2 separate regions of the Homo sapiens genome follow, and region 1 is linked to region 2. The links come from fine-mapping of genetic effects on gene expression. Tissue or cell type: whole blood. Region 2 holds a variant in brackets; the other region holds the start of a gene. All regions are shown on one strand. Distances are from middle to middle.

Evidence for each region. PIP is the estimated chance that this variant, and not a neighbour inherited with it, causes the effect.
Region 1: NKTR starts here. The variant in region 2 is fine-mapped to the expression of NKTR in whole blood (INTERVAL, PIP 0.97).

Annotation. Positions count from the first base shown.
Region 1 is chr3:42,595,201-42,605,745 of GRCh38, forward strand. It overlaps NKTR (natural killer cell triggering receptor), which reads left to right and starts at 5,486. Exons shown (of 17, transcript NM_005385.4): 1 at 5,486-5,578; 2 at 5,784-5,864. The coding sequence starts at 5,807. SS18L2 (SS18 like 2) reads left to right here. Exons shown (of 3, transcript NM_001370300.1): 3 at 1-1,734. It also overlaps a transcript of SEC22C not described here. RefSeq lists a silencer at 5,580-5,789.
Region 2 is chr3:42,616,746-42,627,290 of GRCh38, forward strand. It overlaps NKTR (natural killer cell triggering receptor), which reads left to right. Exons shown (of 17, transcript NM_005385.4): 3 at 825-899; 4 at 2,275-2,382; 5 at 2,919-2,963; 6 at 4,684-4,771. ZBTB47-AS1 (ZBTB47 and NKTR antisense RNA 1) reads right to left here. Exons shown (of 3, transcript NR_125400.1): 2 at 7,019-7,067. Among named protein-coding and RNA genes, the nearest start is that of NKTR, 21 kb to the left of the region's middle. The variant T/A (reference allele first, on the strand shown) is at 5,706.

The DNA of each region.
Region 1 (10,545 bases), 22 kb before region 2:
GATTTGTCTGAACCAGAATCCAAATAAGATTCACATGTTGTATTTTGTTGATGTTCCTTTAAGTCACTTAAAGAATACTTAATAGTTCCTTTTTTTCTTTATTTGTTGAAATAACTAGGTGTTTACCCTAGAATTCTCTCGTGTTCTACATACAGTTGTATCTCTGTAGTGTTGTTAATTATGTGCCACTATCATCCACTTTTCCTGTAAACTAGTAGATCTAGAGGCTCATGCAGACTCATGTTCTAATATTTTTAGCAGGAATATATTAGAAGGTGATAAGTACTTGCTTTTGCATCACATAAGGAGTGACCTGACTTTTAAGTTCCCAACCAGCCTTTCACTTAAATTATGATCCACCCAGCTTTGATGTGGTAATTCATTAGGGATTACATAATGAGGATTTTCTAATTTATCATTCTTTCTGACTTTATTAGCTGTATTCTATAAAAAACTTTCACTCTTGGAGATTTATCTGAAAGATGAGGCAAAGGGATTCTTGTAAGTATATCCAAAATTAGAAGCCCAGGTCCCTGCTCCTTTTTTTGGAGTCAAGGGTTGCAACCTAGGGCAACTGTAAAATACATGTAAATAGTGAAGAGATAACTCATTTTGAATCCCAGCTCTATCCCTTAACCTCTGAAAGCTCTGTTTCCTCACCTCTAAAGTGAGGATAATGAAAATAGCATCTGCCTCCTGAGGTTGTGAGACTGAGATAACGTGGTTGAGAACTGGGCACATGTTAATCTATGTTAGCACTAATGTGCTGAGGGCTCTGGCTCTTTCTTTTTTCTTTTTCTTCTTTTTTTTGGTTTTGTTTTGTTTTGTTTTTGTTTTTGTTTTTTTTTGAGACGGAATCTCGCTCTGTCGGAGTGCAGTGGTGCAATTTTGGCTCACTGCAACCTCTACCTCCTGGGTTCAAGTGATTCTCCTGCCTCAGCCTCCCAAGTAGCTGGGATTACAGGCATGTGGCACCATGCCTGGCTAATTTTGGTATTTTTAGTAGAGACGGGGTTTCTCCATGTTGGTCAGGCTGGTCTCGTACTCACGACCTCAGGTGATCCACCTGCCTCAGCCTCCTAGAGTGCTGGGATTACAGGCGTAAGCCACCGCGCCCAGCCGATCATTTCTGTTTTCTAGAAAATTATTTTGTCTGTTTCCCCACTAGCATTCCTGATGGTTTTCCAGAGTCCTATCCCCTGAAGTTCTAATTGCTGGCATAATCACACTCTAAAAGGCTGAACCCCAGAATCATTACCTGAAAATTCGTACTACCAGTGGTTCTTCTTCATGATAAATCATGGACAAATTAAGCCTGAGTTTGTAAACTCTTTGGATACCAACTTTCTACCACTCTTGGAAGAGATGGAGGAGGTGTCAGTCATTTTGGTTGATACTAGCCCTAGGCCTGCCTTGTCCCAGGAGTTTCTTCACCTTAATCACAGACCAAATTGCATACTTTTATCTTCGAATCATCTAAAATATAATTTCAAATCACAAGACAGAATAAAATAATCTTTGAGAGAGGCAGAACCTTAGAAAGGAGATATTTTATCTCATTTATTTTACAGATGAAGAAAGTAAACTTCAGAGAGATCAAAGTGATTTGTCTCAGGTCACATAACCAGTGGCAGAAAGAAGAGAATTGCTGGAATGTCAAGATAAGAATGAATTCTAGGTTTAAAGTTGTTTAAGTATATCCCAAATTAAATATTTCATTCCTGAGCTCTAAAACCTATTTACATTGAAGCCTGATGTCCTAAACACGGTAATTACAAAGCTGGGTAATGGTCTCCATCCTTTCCTTTCATGAATCCATGTATGAAAGTTAGCTTTATCAAACTATTTCATCTCCAGAAAGGCATGTACATTTCATACTGTTCAAGTCTGTAATTGTCAGCAAAATCAGACCCAAGACCGCTAGCTTCTCAATTCAGCCTACAGACTGCTCCTCTAATAGACACACTGGACTCTCAGGGAGGTAGAATGGGCAAGCTCTAACAAAGGACAGCACTTCTGTGATGGTGTGGAAGTACCAAAGGTTTGACTGTACTTTAAAAAGGTGACATGGACGGCTGGGTGCAGTGACTCATGCCTGTAATCCCAGCACTTTGGGAGGCCAACGCGGGCAGATCACAAGGTCAGGAGATCGAGACCAGCCTGACCAACATGGTGAAACCCTGTCTCTACTAAAAATACAAAAAAATTAGCCAGGTGTGGTGGCGTGTGCCTGTAGTCTCAGCTACACTGGAGGCTGAGGCAGGGGAATCGCTTGATCTCAGGAGGCAGAGGTTGCAGTGAGCCAAGATCGTGCCACTGCACTCCAACCTGGGCGACGGAGCGAGACTTTGTCTCAAAAAAAAAAAAAAAAAGGTGACATAGGTGCAGAAACAGGTCAGAAATGATCTAAGTCAAGCTTGTCCAACCCGCCACCCAGGGGCCACATGTGGCCCAGGACAACTTTGGGTGCAGCCCAACACAAACTCATAAACTTTCAAGAAATATGAGATTTTGTTGCAATTTTAAGCTCATTGGCTATTGTTAGTGTTAGTGTATTTTATGTATGGCTGAAGACAATTATTCTTCCAATGTGGCCCAGGTAAACCAAAAGATTGGACACCCAATCTAAGTGAGCCCAATTTCCAAATTTACTATAAAACTACATTAATTAAAACAGTGTGCCACTTCACATCCATTAGGATGGCAATAAAGAAAACCAAAAAATAACAAGTGTTGGTGATGATGTGGAAAAATTGGAAACTTTGTGCACTGCTGATGGAAATGTAAAATAGTGCAGCTATGGAAAACAGTATGGTAATTCCTGGAAAAATCTTAAATGGAATTAGCTTATGATCCAGTGATTCCATTTCTGGGCATATATCCAAAATAATTGAAAGCAGGTTTCAAAGAGGTATTTGTACACCCACATTCATAACAGTACTATTTACAACAGCCAAAAGGTAGAAGCAATCTAAATATCCACTGACATATGAATGGATAGACAAAATATGATATACACATACAATGGAATATTATTCAGCCTCAAAAAAGGAAATTCTGACATGCTACAACATGGATGAAATGGAAGACATGCTGAGTGAAATCACCCAGCTACAAAAGAACAAATTTTTTTTTTTTTTTTTTTGAGACAGAGTCTCGCACTGTCACCCAGGCTGGAGTGCAGTGGCGCAATCTCGGCTCACTGCAATCTCTGCCTCCCGGGTTCAAGTGATTCTCCTGCGTCAGCCTCCTGAGTAGCTGGGATTACAGGTGCCTGCCACCACGCCCTGCTAATTTTTTGTATTTTTAGTAGAGACGGCGTTTCATCATGTTGGCCAGGCTGGTCTCGAACTCCTGACCTCATGTGATCCACCCGCCTCAGCCTCCCAGAGTGCAGGGATTACAGGTGTGAGCCACCGCACCTAGCCTACAAGAACAAATATTACATGATTTTACTCACATATGAGTAGACAAATACTAGAGTAGACAAATTTACAGAGAGAAAGTAGAAGGGTGGCTGCCAGGAACTTGGGAAAAGAGGGAAATGGGGAGTTACTGTTTAATAATACAGAGTTTCAGTTTTGCAAGATGGAAAATGTTCTGTGGACGGATGGGAGGTACTGAGGGTTGTACAACCGTGTGAAATACAGTTAATGCCAGCGAACTGTACACTTAAAAATGGTTAAAATGGCAACTTTCACATAATGTGTATATATATCTATAGATCTATAGATATCTAGATATCTGTAGATCTATAGATCTATAGATAGATTTTTTTTGTTTGAGACGGAGTCTCGCTCTGTCACCCAGGCTGGAATGCAGTGGACCGATCTCGGCTCACTGCAAGCTCTGCCTCCCAGGTTCACGCCATTCTTCTGCCTCAGCCTCCCGAGTAGCTGGGACTACGGGCGACCGCCACCACGCCCGGCTAATTTTTTGTATTTTTAGTAGAGAAAGGGTTTCACCGTGTTAGCCAGGATGGTCTCGATCTCCTGACCTCGTGATCCGCCTGCCTCGGCCTCCCAAAGTGCTGGGATTACAGGCATGAGCCACCACGCCCGCCCATGTAATGTGTATTTTATAGTTTAAAAAAAAAACTTATAAAATAGTGTGGTACTCAGACACAGATCATTGGAACAAAAATCCAGAAACAGACCCACACATATATGGTCACAAGGCGAAGGTAATTCAATGTATAAGAGTCTTTTCAGGCCGGGCGCGGTGGCTCACGCCTGTAATCCCAGCACTTTGGGAGGCCGAGGCGGGCGGATCACGAGGTCAGGAGATCGAGACCATCCCGGCTAAAACGGTGAAACCCCGTCTCTACTAAAAATACAAAAAATTAGCCGGGCGTAGTGGCGGGCGCCTGTAGTCCCAGCTACTTGGGAGGCTGAGGCAGGAGAATGGCGTGAACCCGGGAGGCGGAGCTTGCAGTGAGCCGAGATCCCGCCACTGCACTCCAGCCTGGGCGACAGAGCGAGACTCCGTCTCAAAAAAAAAAAAAAGAGTCTTTTCAACAAACGGTAATGGAACGACTGTATATCCCAATAGGAAAATGTTGACACTTACTTGACAACATAAGCAAAAATTAATGATATTAGATCATATCATAGACTTACACGTTAAAGACTATGTAAAACATATATGAGAACACAGAATATCTTCAAGAACTTGAGGTAGGCAGAGATTTCCTAGCACAGGAAAAGCACAAACCATTAAAATATAAAACTGACCAATTGACTTAATCAGAATTAAAAACTTCTTTGCCAAAAACGTCAAAACAATGAAACGACAGGCCCAGATTGGGAAAAAGACTTCGCAATCATTTATGTAACAAAAGATTTTCATTCAGAGCATACATATATCTAACAAAACATTTGTATCCAGAACTGTTAAACACGAAGGACCAGATTTAAAAACGGGCAGAAGACTGGAACTGAAACTTCACAAAAGATGCAGAATGGTCAGTAAGCACAGGACAAAAACGGTGCCAGTGACGCTGGTGCCAAAGCGGGAAGGAACGCATTCTTCAGCCTAAAAGACCTAACAGTAGGACACGGACATAACCACTCCCGGCCAAAAAGAACACAGAGCAACACAACGTCTTGGCTAACGAAAACTCAAAGCCTCAATTCACTCAGTTCCTTCACAGCGCTCGGAAACAGAGAAGTCTCGCGGTATCGGAAAATGCGCGGCGCTCACAGCCACACCTGACGAGATGGAGGGCGCAGGCGCATCCACGGCTTTCAGATTGGGCGACTGACTTCAAAGGGGGGGGCAAACAGGGAACGCGCAGGTATAGGAGCGCTGGCTGGAGGCTCCTCGAGAGCTCCCCAGACACGCCCCCGTGCGTACGCCCCCGTGCGTACGCCCCCGCTGCCGCCACCTTCGGTTGACCACCCCCATCTAGACTGTACTCTCGCGGTATTTGTCCCGACTCTCGCGGGGTTTAGCGTGGCATTGGGAGGCCCGGCCTGGGGGAGGAGACGGCGTTCCGTTAGCGGCGTTGGGGTTTGGCTGCAGTGGCAGTGCTTTCTCTTCTGCTCACGGGGACCCGCTCAGGCTGGAGGCCAGCCAGGTGAAGAGCTCGCCCGCATGCGTGCGCGCTGCGTGGGAGCCGCGAGGCCCGGGGCGGGAGGGGGCCTCGTCTTGGCCTCCTGCGCTGTCGCGACGGGCCGGCGTGAGGCACCGTGGCGCGGACTTCGTCTCAGCCCCGCCCTCGCCCCTGCCCTCGCCCCCGCCCTCGCCCCTGCCCTGACCGCTTTTCTCCCCCTCTCTCCCAGCTCTTGCCGCCACCTCGGTCGCGATGGGGGCGCAGGACCGGCCGCAGTGCCACTTCGACATCGAGATCAACCGGGAGCCGGGTGAGCTGGAAACTGGGGAGCGCTGCTGGGGCCGAGGCCTGCCTTGGCGAAGGGGAGGGGTCTACCCTCAGCAACCCTCCCCCGGCCTTTTTGGGAGCGGGTAGGAGGCGCAGGCAACTTTCCGTTTTCTCTTGAGAGAAAATCAGTGGGAGAGGAAGGTGGCCTGGGCACACCCCTAACTCGCAGTCCGGGCCTCTTCCTGCCAAACCCCACACACCCCGCTGCATCTCCGGACTGAGTCCTCGTAGCCAGCCTGGCGCCAAGAAAAGGAGGTGCAGTTCTTTGAGGACTTTTTCTCTCCCAGTGTCTCCGTGAGGCAGACACTCCCGATCCGATTTCCGGTTATCTTGCTTGGTGCTATGAAGTTTCAACTAGTAGGAAATATTGTGTGTTTCCTAATCACGATATATCACTAATATGTTAATTTTGCCTCTATTTTTCCTTAAGAATCTTTAGCTAGAATTTCGTGGTTCCTGGGAAAATGGCTTAGTGAAGATCTTTTGTGATAAACCAGAGCATTTTGTACCAGCAGAATTGCAGCATGCATGCACTTAGCATTAATGTTTGTCTTTAGGGAATCCAGACATTTGTTAGTGTATTTTTTTTAAATGAAACATTTCCTTCTAAAGCATAGTTATTTCATTCTAAGTAGCAGAGCGTGCAGGGTTTCAAACTGTTTTCTTAGCTTTTTTTGTTATCCGTGACAAAAGTTTTAATTGGAGACATATATATATGTGTTGTCTTTGTGCAACATCTTGTTCTGCATATTCTTATGAGAGCCTGCTACTGTTCTAGGGTCTGGAGATAGAGCAGCGCATAAAACAAAGGCCTCTTCCTTTTATAGTTTATATTCTATTGGGGGGAAGACGGACAACTAGGAAAAAAATAACAGTGACTTGTAGTTGGGATACTATTTTAATAAGTTGGTCAGACAAGGCCATTTTGAGAAGATGAGATTTAAGCAGGTATCAGAAGGAGATGAAGTGAGCCGTATTTAAGAAGAGCATTCGTGGTAGAGGGAAACAGCACAGCCCTGAGGTGAGGAGTAGTATACAGTCAGGCGCCAAATGACATTTCTATCTTTAACAATGGTCTTATATATAATACCTTTTTTTGGTAACTTTTTAATGTTTAGCTGTGTTTAGATATACAAATACTTCATTGTGTTAAAGTTGCCTACGGTATTCAGTGGAGTAACATCCTGTACAGGTTTGTAGCCTAGGAGCAAATAGACTATATAGCTTAGGTGTGTAGTAGGCCGTACCATCTAGGTGTGTTTAAATACATTCCATGATGTTCACACAATGACGAAATTGCCTAATTACACATTTCTCAGAATCCGTCCTGGTTATTAAACAATGGAGGACTGTACTTGCATGTTTGAGGGACAGCAGGGTGCCCAGTGTGGCTGGAGTAGAAGAGGAAAGAGAATAGTAAGAAATGGCCTGTAGGACTGACTCAGTGAGGTAGGAAGATATTAAAGGGTTTCGAGCAAAGGGATGAGATAATCCTGGAAATTTGGTTGCCTTCTCTCTCTTTTTAATGTTTTTAGCCTTGATTGATCTTTTTTTTTTTTTTTTTTAAATAAGTGTTACTAGAAAGCCTTGATGGACCTTAATCTTTATTTTGTAGTGAATCCATGCTTTAGATAACAGGGTTATTTTCTATTAAGAATTAAAAATAGCTCACGCCTGTAATCCCAGCACTTTGGGAGGCAGACGCGGGTGTATCATTTTGAGGTCAGGAGTTCGAGACCAGCCTGGCCTACATGGCGAAACCCCATCTCTACAAAAAATAAAAAAATTAGCTGGGCATGGTGGCTCTCTTAGTTTTTGCCTGTAGTCCCAGCTATTTGGGAGGCTGAGACTGAAGGACTGCTTGAGCCTGGGAAGCAGAGGTTGCAGTGAGTAGAGATTATACCACTGCATGTCAGCCTGGGTGACGGAGTGAGACCCTGTCTCAAAAAAAAAAAAAAAGAAAAGAAAAGAAAAATAGTAGATTGCTGAAGAGTAGAAGTATGACCAAGCATGGTGGCTCATACCAGTAATCCCAGTACTTAGGGAGGCCCAGGCAGGAGGATTGCTTGAACCCAGGAGTTTGAGACCAGCCTGGGCAATATAGCAAGACCCTGTCTACAAAAAACAATTTTTTTTTAATTAGCCAGGCATGGTGGTGCTCACCTGTACTTGGAAGGGTGAGGTGGGAGGATGGCTTGAGCTCAGGAGTTTAAGGCTGCCATGAGCTATGATTGCACCACTGCACTCCAGCTTGGTCAACAGAGCAAGATCTTGTTTCTAAAAAAAAAAAAAAAAAAAAAAAAACAGCTTAAGAAAAAGTACAAATAAAAATTTCTGTAGTTAAGTACTCCTTTCCTAGTAAATGTTCAGATCCTAGATTTGCACATAACCTGTGTTGTGAAAAATCTCCAGAATATGTTTGACAAATGTTCAATGAACCTCATTCCTCAACATCCAAGGCAATTCATTGTGATAGATGTGTAGATGTGATTAGCACTCTTGAGAACGCCGAATCATATAAAACAAGGAAATGCAATGCTTACATTGTTCTAGGTTTAATCATTTGATAGTTGGAAATTTCATATGGTTCAGTCTTGTGAAATAACTAGCACTTTTTGAGTATATTAACTAAATAGTGGATTTTACACAACTTTTTTTTTTTTTTTTTTTTTGAGGCGAAGTCTCACTTTTTCACCCAGGCTGGAGTGCAGTGGTGCCATCTCGGCTCAGTGCAACCTCCGCCTCCCAGGTTCAAGCGATTCTCCTGCCTCAGCCTCCCTAGTAGCTGGGATTACAGGCATGTGCCACCACCCCTGGCTAATTTTTTTGTATTTTTATTAGAGACAGGGTTTCATCATGTTGGCCAGGCTGGTCTGAACTCCTGACCTCAAGTGATCCGCCCACCTCGGCCTCCGAAAGTGCTAGAATTACAGGTGTGAGCCACGGTGCCTAGCCTGTGGTTTTTATTAAAGAAATTGGTGCATTTTATCTAAGTTGTCAAGTTTATGTGCTTAGAGTTGTTTGTCACAGCCTCTTTTAATATCTGTGGGGTCTGTAGTGGTGTCTCTTTTCATTCCTGATATTGATAATTCTTCCTTTTGTCTTTTTCCTTTGTCAGTCTGACGAGAGGTTTATTCATTATACATTTTCAGAGAACCAGATTTTGATCTGATTGAATTTTGTTTCTATTTTTGTTTTCAATTTCATTGTTCTCTTTCTTTCTAATGCTTGCTTCAATTTTTATTTTGTTCTTTTTCTAGTTTCTTAATGTTGAAGCATAGATTGTTGATTTGATACCTTTTTTTTTTGAGACAGTCTCAAATGACTTTTAATTTAATTCCATTATGGCTAGAGAACACACATGATTTCCGTTCTTTGTGCACTTGAATGTACATTCTGCACTTGAATGTACATTTTTGTGTAGTGTGTTCTATAAATGTCAAATCCAGTTGGCTATTAGTGTTGGTCAATTCTTTTATATCTTTGCTGATTTTCTACTTGTTTATTGATTACCAGGAGAAGAGTATTGAAGTCTGCAACTATAACAACTGTAATTGTGGATTTATCTATTTCTCTCCTTTTTTTTTTTTTTTTTTTTTTTTTTTTTTTTTTTTTTTGAGACTGAGTCTTGCTCTGTCGCCCAGGCTGGAATGCTGGAGTGCAGTGGCATGATCTTGGCTCACCACACCCTCTGCCTTCCTGGTTCAAGTGATTCTCGTGCCTCTGCCTCCCCAGTAGCTGGGACTACAGGTGTGAGCTACCATGCCTGGCTAATTTTTTGTATTTTTAGTAGAGACAGGGTTTCTTCATGATGCCCAGGCTGGTCTTGAACTCCTGGGCCCAAGCAATCCACCTGCCTCGGCCTCTCGAAGTGCTGGGATTACAGGCATGAGCCATCATGCCCGGCCGTATTTCTCTTTTAAGTTCTCTTAGTTTTTGCATCATTCATTTTGAGGCTCTTAGGTGGGTACATACATATTTAGGATTGTTGTCTTCTTAGTGAACTCTTTTATTATTATGTAATGACACCTTATATTCCTAGTAACTTTCCTGGCTCTGAAGTTTCCTTTGCCTCAGATATGAATATAGTTACTTCCGTTTTATTAGTGTTTACATGGTATATCATTTTCAATCCTTTTACTTTTAACCTTTCTGTATAATATTTAAAGTGGATTTCTTCTGGATAGCAAATAGATGGGTCTTGTCCCACTCTGACAATGTCTTTTAGTCAGTATGTTTAACTGTATACATTTAATATAATTAGTTATGTTTAGATTTGCTTTACTGCTTAAGATTCATAAAAACAGACTGGAAAATGTGTTTTTAGCAAACATTGTAAAGTATTTAGAAGTGATACCAAGAAATTAGTCTTAAGAGGCGACAAAGGATTCAGGCAAATGTTTGAGTACTACTTGTGTCCTTGGTCAAGCCGTTTAACAACCTCTTTGTGAAATGGAACTACTATACAGTTTTGTTCTTAATTTGGTTCCAAAGCTAACAGGACAGGAAAATTTGCTTATATTCAAAATTAAACTAAACTTTAGACTCACATTCAAAATAGCTCATACTTCGAGTGAGGTATATGGGATCTGGTTTGTTCTGAGGGAATAGGAGAAATGCATCTCCGCTCTCAAGGTCACCCTGGGTCATAAGCTCATGAGTAG
Region 2 (10,545 bases):
GATGGGGAGTATTATTTTAAGAGTCTTGCTCTGTCACCTAGGCTAGAGTGCAGTGGCACAATCAAAGCTCACTGCATGATCATAGCTCATTGCAGCCTTGAAATCCTGGGCTCAAGTGAACCTCCTACGTCAGCCTCCCCAATAACTACAGGCATGTGCCACCATCCCCCGCTAATTTTTAAAATTTTTTGTAGAGACAGGGGTCGTTCTGTGTTGCCCAGGCTGGTCTCAAACTCCTGACCTCAGGCAACCCTCCCTGCCTCAGCCTCCCAAAGTGCTGGGATTATAGGTGTGAGCCACCATGCCCAGCTTAAAATGTGAATTTTAAGTGTGATTGGTGCAATTCAGGAAGGTGGCTCTTAACAGTTCTTGCTTAAAGGAAGAAAGCTGAAAATAAAGAGACAGAGATGTTTCTTAACAATACTGGCCAGAATTACTGTCTTTTGATGTACTCTCATCACTGGAAGGGCCCAAGCATAAATCAAACAACTATTGAGAGTATTTTTAAAGAAGATTTATAGTTCAGATAGGGAACTATACTACGAGGAATCTAATAATACAAAGTTCCTTTAAAACACACTTAAAATCCTATAATTTTGGGGCTGGAACCAATTTGGCTGCATGTAAATTTTAACAATAACAAATAAAATGGTGTTCTTGTTCATAGGTATCACCCAGTTAAATGCTTTCCCATTACATCTTTTAAAAAATTAAAATGAATTACAAAAATAGACTTTCTAATTTGTTAGCCCTGTTTCTTTCTCCCATTTAAATGTGATATATTTAACTTGCTTACTATTTTTTTCCTATGTATTTTATTTCAGTTGGTCGCATTATGTTTCAGCTCTTCTCAGACATATGTCCAAAAACATGCAAAAACTTCCTTTGCTTGTGCTCAGGTAAGTGAATTATTATTTCCAATGAGAAGCTGTGGCTTACAGTTTTACCTTGCTGAACAGAATAGATATTTTCCTGGAAGAATAATGGACTCGTGAAATTAGTTTTGTGAATTAAAAAAAAAAAAGAGTTACTTATACTGACTTTTATATGAAATCAGGGAAGCATTTCTTAAGGGGAAGAGATTAGAAAGGAATGATCTCAAAAATGAAAAAGAGAGTAAGAATCTACGTTATATAATGGAATCTTCTCTATACATTTTAATTTATAAAATAATAGCACACATTCAAAACTGATTTGGTAGAATTTTATGAATTTCACTACTTTGAAAAAATTTAGTATTCCAAATTTTACAATAAATTTTAAATAAATAGAAAAAATGGGGAGGGAAACATCTATAATGTTACTTTAAAATTAGAACAAACTGGCCGGGTGCGGTGGCTCAAGCCTGTAATCCCAGCACTTTGGGAGGCCGAGGCAGGTGGATCACCTGAGGTCAGGAGTTCAAGACTAGCCTCGCCAACATGGTGAAACCCCGTCTCTACTAAAAATACAAAAATTAGCCGGGCGTAGTGGCAGGCGCCTGTAATCCCAGCTACTCAGGAGGCTGAGGCAAGAGAATCACTTGAACCCGGGAGGCGGAGCTTGCAATGAGCCAAGATTGCGCCATTGCACTCCAGCCTGGGGGACAAGAGCCAGACTTTGTCTCAAAAAAAAAAAAAAAAAAATTAGAACACACTGAAATTTTAAATTCTTACTTGGATACACATATGCAATTTTTGCACTAACTCCTTGATTTTGTTATTTATTTATTTGGGACGGAGTCTGACTCTTGTCTCAAAAACAGGCTGGAGTGCGGTAGTGTGATCTCAGCTCACTGCAACCTCCACCTCCCAGATTCAAGTGATTCTCCTGCCTCAGCCTCCTGAGTAGCTGGGACTACAGGCCTGTGCCACCACACCTGGCTAATTTTTGTATTTTTTTTTTTAGAGGCAGAATTTCACCCTGTTGGCCAAGCTGATTTCAAACTCCTGACCTCAAGTGATCTGCCTCGGCCTCCCAAAATGTTGGGATTACAGGCGTGTGCCATTGCGCCTGACCTCATTCTTTGACTAGAGTGATAAGTGTGTCTAGTATTATGTCCTATAGCATGTAGAGTCTGTACCACACAATTTTACATTTACATGCTGCTTTGGATTATTTATTTTGGTTTGCGTGCATGTGTGTATGTTAAATTATCATGTCATCTATTTCTTATATCTCTTCCAGTGCCTAGCACACAGGAAAGATTTGACACAGGATTAATTGGTTTGTTCTTTCCATGGAAGGATGTATAAATAATTAAACTTCATTTCTTTTTTTTTTTTTTTTTTCCAGGAGAGAAAGGCCTTGGGAAAACAACTGGGAAGAAGTTATGTTATAAAGGTTCTACGTTCCATCGTGTGGTTAAAAACTTTATGATTCAGGGTGGGGACTTCAGTGAAGGTAGAGCTAAAAGTTGTGTTCCTAATAACTCCATCTATCAGTTTTTAAAGTATTTCATTATTACTTTTAGTTCTAAATATTGTGTCAGTTACAGTATGATATAAAATGTGGTCAGTGAATACTTGTTGGATGAGTGAATATTATAGGTCCAGAATGTATGAAAAAGCAAAGTACCACGTAAGACATTTTATTTTGTTTTTATGCAGTTTATTTTATTAATATTATAGTTACTTAGTGAATTCCTTTACAATGAATGCCAAAGTACTGTCTGATTGCTTTTGTTCTGGAATGTTTTTGGTGTTATTACTGTTTGAAATAAGTAGGTTGTGAAGATGACTTTTTTGATGGTATTTCTTGTAATGGGACTTGACATATATTTTACAGATGAAGTTAATTGAGGACTCTGAGAATTTTGATTATTGCAGCAGTTATAACATTCCAAGGTTTCCTTCAGCGAATTGAAGCTATCAAAAATGATTTCTGTGTTAGTATATTTTTAATGTTCATTATGGCTTAAAGTAGGTGATTATTTGCAGGTAATGGAAAAGGTGGAGAATCAATTTATGGTGGATATTTTAAAGGTAAGGCTTAATATTTTACGGTCTTTTGTTTCAGTTCTGATATTAAAGCAAGTTTGATCATATACTTTTAATGAGAAGAGGTTTACTTATAGTTCACTTTTTGCATGAAACTAATGCTGCATGAAAATACTTTATTTGCATGAATTTGGGGATAAATTATATTGTAATATATAATTTTTAATTGACAAGATTAATTAAGGCTAACTTTATGGTTAAACATGACTTTCAGCATGGAGGTTAGGCAACTATATACATGAAAACTCCTATCTTCCTGCCTAAAACTGTCAACATATTCTTTTGTTTATAGAGAATGTGGTCTTTTGCAAAATGAAAAGGTAAGAGAACGAAGCTCAGTAACACAAACTCCAATTCTGTTCCCTTGCACCCTTCCTAATAAATTTATGGACAGTCTGGGTCAGGTTGTGGCTGGATTTCTATATTGCTTGAAGACTTGGAAAATTCTGTGTATTATTTCATACATGCTTCTGTATCTTTTTTCATTTCCCAATGGGTTATTAATTTCACATCAGAGAAAAGAGTCTAGTTGTGGGGTTTTTTTTCCCCTAAACCAAGCAATTTCTTTGAATAAAAGTTGAAATTTCGTTTTTCAAAGGTTTGTATGTTTTCTTTTGTATATTAGAACTATGACTGTGTTTATTCTCATAATAGTAGCATCTGCATAAATCTAACTATTGCACTTGCCCCAAAAAGCCTTAGAAAAGTCAGTTGCAGAGATTTGTAATGAAATCTAATATTACTAGGTTTTAACGCTATAATAGCTTCAGTGTTATAATAGTCTTTTATATTTCCTTTGGGGGAAAATGGATTACTACTCTTTTTCAGAAGCCTGTTCCCAAGGTAATCACTTTTTAAAGTTTTCTGTGTTTCTGTTTGTTCTGAAGAAGATTTGTTTGTATGAATGTTAAAAGGACATATAAGTTAGTTTTCAAGGATATTCCTGCTGGAATTAAAATAACTCTAAGTGATCTTTATCACAGATTTTTTTTTCCTTTGAACTAGTAGGAAACAGCTATTTAGCTGGTTCTGTTATGTAGCAATTTAAAACTAATGCTGTAGGCCACTTTGTGGTTGTTCCTTGTGGCAGATACTTTTGTACCTTAAAATTGTATTTTGCTATTTAAATTTTTGTTTCACAGGGCTTTCTTCCTTAGATAATTTTGTGATACAATTGAGTATACACATACTTAATTTAGATATGTTCCTGTAACTTAATATAACATAATTTTTTTGTCTTACAGTCTAGCTTCAATTAAGTTGAATAATAAATTTACCGTATAAAAATTAAACACCTAAAAAGATTATTGAACTTCTTCCATGTATAGCACATTAGGCAAGCTAATTGGAAATTTGGAGGAAGTAAGCTAGAGATTTTTCTAAAATTTTATTAGTTTTCCCTGAAAGTTAATAATTTAAATATCATTTAGCCAAAGTATGTTACTACTAAAAGTGACTGTTCTAAGGCTGTTTGTGTGAAGTATTAAATATATGTTCTTTTCCTCAAGGCTTTAATTAGTATCTTTTGGCCTTTTTATGCTTTTGTTATTTGATTAGCTTAAATTTTTCTTTTCTGAGTGTTCAGTCAAGTTATCTGTACTGACCAGAAGAGGAATTTCATCTTTTGCTTTCTATTTATTACTTGAACATTACTTTAAAGTGACTTATAATTGGAGACTGACAAATTTGTGTTTTCTTCAAACAGATGAAAACTTTATTCTCAAACATGACAGAGCGTTCCTTTTATCAATGGCAAATCGAGGGAAACATACCAATGGTTCCCAGTTTTTCATGTGAGTAGGCATAATTCAGAGATGAGCTTTTCTTAAACAGAGAAGCGCTGTTCATAAGAAAGATGGTATAGTTAAACCAAGTTTAATGCTAAAATTCTGTCAGCTTTATTTTTATTATTAATTTCTAATATCATAGTAACTTATAAGGTCTAACAACTGCCTCAGCATTCAGCATATATCCTGAATTGGAAGAATGGGACTTAAAAAATTTAAAACTTATACATTGTTTTCAAAATATGCCGTCATCTTCAGAAAAGATGACGGCATATTTAAGCCCCTGTCAAATTCGAGTGCTGACTTTACCAAAACTAGATTGGAACATAAACTATTGATGAACATGTAAAAATTGTTCATAGACGAGTATTCAGTTACTGTACCCCCTCAACAGGGAAAGCAGTTTGAGTAAACCATTGCATGGTTGTTTTTTCCTCTTACTGTTGCTCTTTGAGGCAATTTTGAGAGAGGTACTATTATTTTCTGATGTTGTATAGAGATAGGTGACCTGCTGTTGAGCGAGCATTTTAAAAAACTCATTTTATGAGGTCTCCATGCATAATTGAAATAACCCAATGTTGCTGTCATTTCCACCAAAATTTATGAGATTGTCACTCAGGAAACTTAAGAATACTAAATTTGCTTTTGAAAAAGCAAATATATTTACATGGATGTGCATTGCACAACCAAAAACTTACCTTTTTATTATCTGAAAATTCTAAATAAATCCTTTGGCATACTTTTAGTTATATTCTTATCTAAGGCTGCTTCAAAACCTATTTTTATCATAATTCTATCATATAAAATGTGAAAGATAACTGTCCAGCATGAGGGTTATTGCTTTTGATTGGAAGTGAATCTCAGTTGTCCTATGTATGTTGGAGAAATATTTCATTAATAATTTATTGAAAACATTTTCTTTGTCATCTTTCTGAATGAA[T/A]GAGTATGAATGGCGCTTCCCTGTCTTTAAAGGAGTATATTACTGACATACAAAACTCAAATGTTAAATTTGTCTGAAAAATATATTTCTACATGATCTGATAAAGTTCAGATAAGGGGCATTCTGTTCCTAAGAATGTCCTAAAAATGGAAAGCTGATAAAAGATTATGCTTAGAATTATACAGGTAAAAGACCTACAACAGTTGTTCTCTTGTTTTGATCCCATAGGTTATTTGTTATTACTCTTCTTTAACAGAGTGATTTTCTATTCTTAACCTTCTTAAGAGCCAATACAGAGTAGAAAGAAATATTTTCAGAAAGCCTTTTTAATAGTAACTTAATGTAAAAATTGTTTATCCTTTGGTTGAGGTTTCCCATTTCCATTTTTAAGCTTATCTGAACTGTGAACATGAAAAACGTAATGATTCATTGGTCAAGAAGCTACCATTTGAGGGCTCTAAAGTTTCTTTTAGATTTCCTTTTTTATATCAGTACAATTAAAATTTGATTTATCAAGTAGCAGCAGCTTCTTGATATTGTTACATACATTAGCTTGTTCATAAAATGTTAGAGTTAAAACTCATTAAAAATGCTATCGTTAAACATAAACTAATTAAAATTCAGTATACGAGATTCTCCCTTCAAAAACATCTTATTTTTATTTTATTTAGTACTTGCTTCAGTGTTTTCTAGGAATATCTAGTAAAGGCCTTTACTGTTTTCCACATGGCCTAATTTTATATTGGACTACAATTTTTGAGAAGGAATGCCAAATACAAAATTTTGAATCAATAAATTACAATTATAATTTTTATACTTATTTTCAAAGTTAATTTACTTTAGATGGCAGTAAAATCACTGAACTTCTGATTGAAAGAAAATTTTTTAGTTTGAAATTTCCTTCTGGAAAGGGGTTTGCAGTCCCTTTGGAAAGGAGTAAGCAATCCTGGAAGTAATTGAGTATTTAATCCTCCTATATTTTTTCTGAAGATTTTTGTGTCAGTATACTTTCTTTATGCTGGCTAGAAAGATCAGTTCTCAAGAGTTGCAGGATAAAATCAAATTAACTTTCATGTTTCAGAACTAAAACATATCCTTGCATTTATGGGAAGGATAGGTAAAAATGGAGATGGTGGCTGATAAAATAAAAATCTTTGAAACTATGTTTTTACAAGCCCAAAGCCTTTTGGAGTTGAAAGTATTAAAAAAAAGTATGATATGCTATCTTCAGGTTATGTATATGATCACAGATAATAGCTCTGATGGTCACAGAGCTTGCTGATGGCTTCCAAAGGATGGCTCCTGCCTTTTACCTTGTTACCACAGCTCCTCATAGGGCACTTTGAGTGGCAGTTCTGGAATCTGAAAAAGAAAGGATAGTGTAAGAATGGTGGTAAAATAAAAAGAACTGTCTTTATAGTTCCTGCTTTATAGGCTCAATAAGGATTTTTAATACATCCTTGCAAAATTGTTTTTGTAGTTTTTGTTACAAATCTGTTACTTTGCAATTCCTAAGGAGTAGATTTGGTGCTGTTAGTATGGGTATTTGCAAGACATCCCTCAAGGATTCTTATGTTTTGTGCATTAACTACTGTCTTCATTACTTACACATCTAAAAACTCCCCCTTCCTTAGGCATATGTCATTTTTATTCAACATAATTTTGCATATATTGCTTTCTTTGGCTGGAACAATTATATACATGATGAAAATCAGATTTTCTTCTATAAATCTATTTGTAATTTTTACAGTAACTTTATTTCTAGTACTGTATTTGTCATAATGATTTTGCTCTCGGGGGTCTATATAGAAGAAAACTTGATTCTTTTTGGAATAGTACTGCTCAAGAAATGTGGAAGAAGTGATATATGGCACTATACCCATGAATCACTAAAGAAACAGTGGTTTTATTTTGAACATTTTTGAAGAAATTCAAAGATTTGGGACTAAAGTTACCAAGTTAATTTGGTATTTATTTTGTCCTTTGTATTCTTATTTTTTAGGTTAAAGAATAGGAAGAAACCACAATAAAAGCTGGAATTATAAAGTCATAGAGTGGAAAGGGATTTAGAGATTATCTAGTCCAACCTTTTCATTCTGTAGATTATGCTAAATTCTTGAAAAGTCATGTAAAGTCCAGGTTATAGAAATTTTATTTACAATCTGGAAGAAACTGATAGCTAGAAAAAGAATGCTGCATACTTATTCATATTATTAATGCCTTTACTATAAATTTAAGCTTATTTAAGCTCAAAATTTTATTAACCACTCTGCTCTGAATTTATTTTAGTTAAGGATTAGAAGCATCAAACATTTTGCTGGAAAACAAAATGACATTTGGGGAAACATTCTTTCCCCTTTTGCTGTTACTGATAGCTTATTAATTCTGGCTGTAATTTTTTTGTCTTTATATACATTAATCAAAAAGACAAAGATGTTGTATAAAATAGTCATGAAAAAGATTGAGTAAATAGTTTATAGCTTTGTAGTAACTTCTGGGATAGGACACTAATATAGCTGTCAGGAAACCTTGATTTTAGTTTCCTATGTACCTTCAGTTCGTTTTTCTTAAACATTGGTATAAAAATATGGATGTAAAAGGAAGAAGGTATTTTGTAGGGTAGTTGTAAGTTCCTGAATGTGTGGAATGATTTATGTGCAAACATTGTCTTGCCTAATGGAAATAGTCATAATTGCCTAGTTTTCATTAGTCTGAAAAATGTCTTAAAGAAGTATTGGGCTCATCTTAAATCAAGAGCAACAGAAGTCTCTTCATCAGCTGCTGTTAGAACATGAGTCTGCGCAGCCATAGAGTAGGGATCTGCAGACCCTGCAAGAACAGTTCCTGTCACTGGCCACTGTCAGTGGTCATTAATAATTATAACAATGTAAGAAAACAAGATAATATAGAAGAGTCAAACTTTGAACTTTAAACAAAACATGTTTGCTACATTTTAACAGTCATAAATAGGGCAATGGGGGGGCGGGGCATAAGTTTTAGAATATGTTTTATGTCATTTAAGAATCTGACTTGCAAGTACCTGAATGGGAGAGAAGTGCTGATTATTACAAAGTAGTGGAGCAAGGAGAGTTGAGGAGTAGTTGGTTTTAAGGGGTTTGTAAAGCTGTGTTGATGTTTTGGGTAATAAAACTAGATTCGGGGTAGAAATGCTTTTTCTACCCACGTATTCATAAATTTATGTAAGAAGAAATGCTAGTAAGTGTTAATAACCTGAGAAGCTCTAGCTTTTTCCTTCCTTTTTTTGGGGTAATACCTTCATATGTTAATTTCAGATTTTTTCATGAGCAAAGATGTTCGTGAAACTTAGCCATAAACCATATTCTCTGAATATCAAGTGTCATCCCTAACATTCAGGCTTAATAACTTAATGTTTATGTGACTTACGTGCTAGCAATGTGGAAGAAATTTTTTATCTAGTAATGTTTGGTGTGTATTATCTTAACATTAGTGCTGAATTTTAGAAAGCACTTCTATTTTGGTGACTTTTGGAACACATGGGTAGAGCATTGTCAAGTGGCTTGGTTAGTTTCCATTACCCTTATACAAGTGTTGTCATTCTGTACAATTTGGTGCCTCTTCCCTGACAGTGTGATAGTTTCAGGAGTTGAAGGGAAAGCATTGCATGTTAAAAGCTAAAGTGGACAGAAGTTATCTTTATTTCCCTCTTCTGTACTACTTTACACCTACAGTCACTTATTTTTTTTTTTTGCAACATTCATTGAAAACTCCACATTATTTCAAACATTATGTTCTTTTTTGACTTATTCATGTTGTCAATGCCTTTATGATAATTTTAAGCTTATTTTTAAATATTTCAAGATTTATTACATTCAAAACTCTTATAAAGCATTTTGTTCATGGTATAATAGTATTTTGATCTGAGTAGTAATAGATTTATTTGTTTAAATATAGATAAAAATTGGTCAGTGTGTGTTCTCCAAAAAAAAATCTTGATAATGGGGAAAATCAGAGATTAGACAGGAAAAGAAGATATTGTGGCTAAGATTTGACTGCACTTACGCTTTCATCTCTCTTGCCTTTTTATTCTCTGAGAAGGTCCCTAAAATTGTAGTTAATGCTGCTTTATTATTATGTTCAGTGACTTAACTTCAATGTGTATCTAATATCACTGAACAGTAACTAGGGTCCGAACATTTGCTCATTAACTCCTGAAAGTAGTCTGTTGTGATACGTCACCAAACAAAGGTTTCAAATGTAGAAGCATGAAAGGTTCTTTAATTATTTGATGTGAATTAGTTAAAAGTTCCTTGAAATTTTATTTTGGATGATCTTAACTCACTTTTTTCTAATGAAATTTTTGCTTTCAACTGGTAGTAACTGGTCCTGGGCATTCAGATTTTTATATTTATGTATGTATGCAAGATACACTATTCTCTTTTGAGAAAATGTTGTCTTAGCTAATTTCTGGGATTTGTGAAAGGAAATGTAATATGTTAATAGCTATTATTGGCACTCTATGTTACAATATTAAGGATCTAAATAGATTCCCACTTAGCCACGATGCTTTTCTTAAGCATAATTCATCTCTACGTAAATATCCCATATGAAAGAAAATTTAGAGCCCTCCATTTAAAAAAGCTTTCTTGCTCTGCATAAAACTTGAAAATAATTAATTTCAAAGTTATATTGATATTAAAACATAGATTCAGTCTTGTCTTAAAAGTGTATTACAATTTATTTCTTGCCATTTTTGTGTAAAATTTACAGAAAGAGTGTTACACCGTGCGCTCCAAAGGTAATGTCTCATTACTCTAAGGCTCTCTCTCTCTTTGCCTTTATCTCTTTAATTCTGTTGTTA